Linked DNA regions of Homo sapiens. The protein of the gene in region 2 purifies or fractionates together with the protein of the main gene of each other region. This does not show direct contact. Each region holds a gene or a part of one and is shown on either strand. Other genes may lie near its edges.

Region 1 (3,500 bases), on a different chromosome or scaffold from region 2:
ACCTTCACCACTCCTGGCGACTGGACCTCAGGTAGGATGGGCTAGAGATATAGGACTGGCTCGCGAGGCACTGTGGAGTAAAAGCAGCCAGCTCTAAAACTCCCTCATGGAAAGTAAATTTGCATGGGTACTTAGGAATAAAGCAAAAGAGACAGAAAAAAACATTAATGGTGGTTATGTCTGGGTTGTGGCATTGTGAATCTGTAAACACTGTTGAGGTTTTTCCCTTTTTTATTCATCCTTAACACACTGGAAGAATCTGGTCTAAATTTGGTGAGTAATCCATGGGCTACCCACTACAGCCCTGCTTTCCCTTGGCCCTGAAGGATGAATCTCCTCAGAATGAGGGTGTGGATGAGAGCTGTTCCTTTTTGAGGTTGCCGCTGCCTTTGAGACATTGATATCACAGGAGAACGTAGTTCTCAAAGGGCCTCTAAAATGGCCCTTTAAGAAACAGTACCCTGGCCCCTATGAACCTGCCTCTCCTTTACACGTCAGGTCCAATTCATAGCCTGCTTCCTTCATTCTAAAATACTATAAGCAAGGCCATGTAGTATCTAGAATCTATAAAAATCCAATATACTGATATTATAAACATTTTTCCATCTGGAGTTGTATCTTGTGATCTATTACTTCTTTTGTGCATAACTTCTATTTAGCTATAAAAGAAATAGGAAAATACTAAAACCTGTGACAAAAAAAAAACACAATAATCTCCAAAGGTGGTTCCTGTGGGAGATCTGCCAGCAGCAAATTGATTAAATAACTTATTTACAAAATAGGTTTTATTCAACTATAATTTTAAAAGACAGGACTAAGGAAAAAATGCTTCTATACTTAGCTTGGCCAAATATGATTTCAGTTTAAAATCCACCTATCCTGTTTCTGCTGACTATCTCAAGGTACTCTGAAAATAATATTGCATTAAACAGCATATTTCTTTCACATGCACATCATCCTAAAATTTTCCAGTTTGTAGCTGAGCAAACTTAAGTACAAAGAGTGGCCCCAGGCTTGGAAAGGAAGTCAGTATCCTGAAGGATTCTTTTGCTGAGTGGTTTTCAGCAAAAGGGGAAACAGGTCTGTAGTAGGCAGCCCATGGATTACCCATCAGATGTAGAGCAGATTCTTCCAGTATCTACCCTCATGTATCCCTTCCTTTTGGACATGTATCTCTTCCCTCTCAAGTCATCCTTTACATTTTCCTATGTAAACACTGCTGAGGTTTTTCCCTTTTTCAGTTCACTCTTAGCATAAAACTTGAAAAGGCTTTTGTGTATAAGGATTGATATCTTTGAATAGTATTGCCAAAAATTTGACAGCCTCTCTTTTAAAAGAGAAACCAAGGTGGTAAGCCTCATTTTTCATATACGCGGCTCAATTTTCTTTCAGGACCTTGGCTAGCATCTGCTTAAAACTCCTCCAACTTGCCAGTGAATTATCTAACAACCACAATCACTAGAAAAATGACTTAGATGTAATTTTGTGGTAAATTTGACCAAGAGAATTTGGAGTCTTATTTTCATGGGGCAAGTTTCTTCATCCCAGCTTTCCATTCCTTTGTTATTCAACATGTGGTGTGGGACCAGCAGCAGCATCGCCTTGGTGCCTGTAAGAAATGTCGAATCTCAGGCCCCATTCCAAACCCAGTGAATCAGAATCCACAGCTTATGATTTCTAGATTTCCAGCATAGTAATCAACAGTCTGGTGGCTAGAGGAAAAGCAATGATTGCTATATTTTATGATCCCCAAACCAAGACGTGTGATCTGACAATGGGGAAAATGATTTAATGTGGCCACCATTTTCAAAAATCTTGACCCTGTGTTTGATGCCCCCCATCCTACCCTACCCAGGACCCTGTGCACGTTGGTGCTGGGCCAGGTGTGCCTGTCCTGCTTATTAAGAATCGGATGTAAAACAAATGCCCAGGCAGAGATTGGCCTTTGCTTTCTCCAGCACTTTGTTTTATTACCAACACTTGCAGTAACAAATGCCCCTTTAAAGATGTGTTACTTTCCATCCATAATTCCCCACTTTGGCCACTCAGAGATTTTAAGGGGCTTGGAACATCTTCAGTGCTAAAACAGATCTGAACACTAACAAATGCCATCTTGCTCCGGTGTTCCAGGGCACGTAGGGGCGCCACTTCCCTGCAATCATATCAAGCTCGTTGATGTTGAGGAACTGAACTACTGGGCCTGCAAAGGAGAGGGAGAGGTAAACAAGGATTTAGCCATTCATGCCTGTGGCTGCTACATGTAGTGAGTAAAAACAAGAACAGTAGGGATGGAATGATTTTCCTTTTGCCTTGTGTATAAAGTCATTTTAAACTACTGATTAATTTGACTCAGCTCAACTCAGCATCTCCTCTCCTGTTTATGAGGCAACCAAGAGCTAGTGCTGGGACTGAGCTGGTTTAAATAAAGATTTGGAATTCCCAGATTTTTAAATTAATTAATTATTATTATTATTATTATTATTATTATTAATTTGAGACGGAGTCTCGCTCTGTCTCCCAGGCTGGAGTACAGTAGTGTGATCTCTGCTCACTGCAACCTCCGCCTCCCAGGTTCACACCATTCTCCTGCCTCAGCCTCCCAAGTAGCTGGGACTACAGGTGCCCGCCACCACACCTGGCTAATTTTTTTTGTATTTTTAGTAGAGACGGGGTTTCACCGTGTTAGACAGGATGGTCTTAATCTCCTGACTTCGTGATCCGCCCACCTCGGCCTCCCAAAGTGCTGGGATTACAGGCGTGAGCCACCGTGCCTGGCCCTTAATTAATTAAATTTTTAATAGAGTCAAGGCCTTGCTCTGCCACCCAGGCTGGAGTGCAGTGGCGTGATTATAGTCCACTGAACTCGAGACCATAGCCTCGAACTCCTGGGCTCAAGCAATTCTCCTGCTTCAGCCTCTCAAGTAGCTAGGACCACAGGCATGTGTCACCTTGCCAAGATAACTTTTTATTTTTTTTTTAGAGATTGGGTCTTGCTGTGTTGCCCAGGCTGATCTTAAACTCCTGGCCTCAAGCAATCCTTCCTGCCTCGGCTTCCCAAAGCACTGGGATTACAGGTGCTAGCCATCATGCCCAGCCCCAAATTTTGTAAAAATTCATTTTTTCCCCTAACTGTGTCATGGCCTGCTGCTGTGTGATCTGTCCCAGCAGAAACATGATCCTTTACAAATAGGCCAGATGGAGTAGATAGAGCTGGCCTGTACTTGTTCATTCCATGGGAGTAAGTGGGAATGATTGCCTGCTAATGGAGCAGGGGGCTGAAGCATCCCTGGTAGAATCAGCCAGCCATCAATATCTGTGATGAGTCCCCATCAAGTGTCACAGAGCAGCATGTGGCCAAGGCCAGAGGGCTCCTGAGGGAGAAGAGATGACAAAGGCCTAGGGTGGCCAGGGCAGGGGGGAAAGATGGGGAGGATGTTGCTTGACAGAAGGCAGGAGACAGTTCAGATGGCTGCTGGCTGTTCCTTGTCCTCTGTTTCCAT
Region 2 (2,960 bases):
TAATATATGTGACATATATAATATTATATATATGTCATATGTATAATATACATATATCATTTATCACCATTTTGTAGGAGGTGAAAGCTTTATTTGTAAGTTCGTGAAATACTTTTATTATTTTAAATAGGCTATCATTGTGTATGTGTGTAAATATACACACACGTGTATATATATGTATATACATCACCATTTCGTAGAAGATGGTGGCTTCATTTGTAAGTTCATGAAATACTTTCATTATTATTTTAAATCAGCTATCATTGTCAAACTATTTTTAAGAGTATTTAATTAATGTTCCCCCTGTATGATTTTCTGGAGGAAAATCCCAGTCAGTATCAGTGGGAGACCGAATTATGAGAGTGTTTAATTAAGAGTTTCTTTCAGGCACCTTTCAAAGAACAATTTAATATCTGAGAAACTCCACCTTATTTGTATCTCTAGAACTGAGCAGTGAGAAAATCTTGACACAAGTCACAAAGATTCAACTAGACCAAACATTACAAAAATCATTTTCATTTATTTAAGCCTTTAAAATAAAATATTCATTTAATATGATACTCAGAGGCAATAAAATACATAATTTAATCGACTTTTCAAATTCATTTAAAAATAGAGAGCTATCATTTTAGAAAGCTCAGCTATTTTTCTTCCCACTAGCAAATTAGGGAAAAAGACTCAAGTCACAAGTTACCGCATCATGTAAGAAAGCCAAGTCCTATCTTGCTCACCTGTCTTGCTCAACAGGGAGGAAAAACCTGCTTGCTGCAGCTGCTGGCATCCAGGCCCTTGATTTTGGGTGTGTTGAAATTACAAGAGGAGTTCTCAGGGTCCCTTTAGTGTACCTGTCTATTTTCTGATTGATGGGAAATGTGTAGGAGGTACTTAGCCGCTAGACTGTAAATCTTCCTTTCCACCATTGGGAGCATATTCTCTGACACTCTCTAAGAAGGAAGTCTGTACCCCCTCTCCTCCACTATCTCTTAAAATTATTTAGTCCATTTTGTATTTGTCTAATGATGGAAAAATATGAAGTACTTATTCAACTGTAAATGGAAATCTTGCATAAAAAGATCAATGTTATGAATTTGAAAAGCAGAATCCCTCACCCCTCTACTGGAAGAGCTAAGTTGAGTTCCTGTTCCCATAATGCTTGGGTGCACCAGCAGAATCTGAACTCAGAACATGCAAATGCAAAAAGCCCTTTCAGCCAAAACACTTGAAATAGACTCTATGAGGCAGTGAAAATACCCAATGCAAAATGGAACAAAACCACTAAGGACCGAGTGGTTAAGATTGTGTATTCTGATTGCTGCAGAATGAGGGAAAGGAAATTAAATTCGATCTTATAATTGAAAGTCCAACACTTGATGAGTTATTTTCCCCTGGCAGCCGTAAACCCCTGCTACCGTATATCAGATAGTCCTGGCTTCCCTTGGCTACACCTACTTACAGCATTGAAACAACTTTCCTGGCTGGTGGGGCCCTTCTGACTTTTGGGCCCTGGGACACGTTCTCTGTTTCAAATACTGTTTAATACTCATTTCCTGATCACTCTCGGACTTGATTCTTCTTATACTACTTACTCCTGCACATCTAATTGACTCTAGTTAAGCATTTCAACCAGGTTTCTGTTACTTGTGTTTTCTATGTATTTTATACTATCTCCCATTGAATTAATTCCTCCACTAGAGTCTTGGTGTTTCTCTCAATACTTCTGTCTTTGCACCTCCTGCCACCTCCCTGACCATGGTGCTTACTGTGGGTGGTCCCTGTCAACTGACTAGCTGTCATATTAGCTATGTGGATCCACTGCACACAGGAAAACCTTGAGGAAGTCCCTCTCCCAGATTTGAAGAGCTCTTTGCCAAATACACACCGTTTGAAAGAATTATGTTTTTCCTTGGAAGATCTAGTGGGTATCACTGGACCCCTGAGGTAGAGCAATAGATGTACGATATCCCTGCTGAGTTAAGAGCCTGCATCCAATATGGTTATTGAATTCTATTTTGTAATAATTTCCTCTCATTTCTGCTTTTGGACTGCCACTGGAGAAGGCAACTTTTTAAAAATACAGAAGTCAGATATTTGCCCATGTTATATTACAAAGTTATATAAATATATAGGTTGCAAAGCTTTTAAAATAATGATTAAAATGTCAGTGAAAGATGTTCATGTCAATTTTTATAATCATAAACACTGAAGAAAATCGTGACCACTGTAATAATAATAATTCATTACATCTACTTTAACATACAGAAAGTCAGGTTGTCATCTATGGGCTAGGAAATTCTGCATAAGAATTCAGTTTTGGTGTTAAAGATGTTTTCATTCTCGGTGTTCCCTATGTCAGGTTTAGTCTGAGAATATTTTGGGGGAATATTTCAATGACAATATATCTATATGAGTATACATACATATATAAAACATATACATATATATAGGAAACAATATTTGTCCCATTAAAGAATTGGGCCACCAGTCACTTGGTACTGAAACCAATACATGAATTCCAATGAAATTCCAATTTTCACTTTAACTCTTTTCTGCCAACTGTCCTACCAAAACAAATAATTAAATATAGTTACGGTTTAAGAACGTAATTTGGAACTCGTCTGTTTTGTCCACTTGATGTCTACTTTTCGTCAGGTTGAAATCCTCCATTTGCCTTATAAAACGATGACTCTGGCTCCGTTCCATTTTCTTTGCTCTCTGGAATTTCTGCCTTGTTTTTTCCATGACATTTCTTGTATGCCACATAAACTAGAAAACAATACACAGACAGTTAAGTAAATTTTATAATAATAAACTGCAAAATTACTTTGCATAGAGATTATAACCTATGATTCACATGGCAGATCACATTTTCTGTAGACTGGAGGCTGCTTAGAGAAAGAAATCACCATTCTTAGTTCTATGGCTACTCATGGCGAGAGGGATGACTGCACTTCAGGAAGACC

The links. The genes of interacting proteins can lie anywhere in the genome.
Region 1: the proteins of SLC10A2 (region 2) and ACSL6 purify together in Homo sapiens (affinity purification with mass spectrometry; one large-scale study listed by BioGRID and IntAct). This does not show direct contact.

The regions. Positions count from the first base shown.
Region 1 is NC_000005.10:131,966,659-131,970,158, reverse strand, and holds part of ACSL6 (long-chain-fatty-acid--CoA ligase 6), read left to right. Parts: coding exon 1-31; intron 32-2,130; coding exon 2,131-2,219; intron 2,220-3,500. UniProt on the Homo sapiens protein: Catalyzes the conversion of long-chain fatty acids to their active form acyl-CoA for both synthesis of cellular lipids, and degradation via beta-oxidation.
Region 2 is NC_000013.11:103,043,498-103,046,457, forward strand, and holds the end of SLC10A2 (ileal sodium/bile acid cotransporter), read right to left. Parts: intron 2,764-2,960; coding exon 2,636-2,763; 3' UTR 501-2,635; downstream 1-500. UniProt on the Homo sapiens protein: Plays a critical role in the sodium-dependent reabsorption of bile acids from the lumen of the small intestine. Transports various bile acids, unconjugated or conjugated, such as cholate and taurocholate.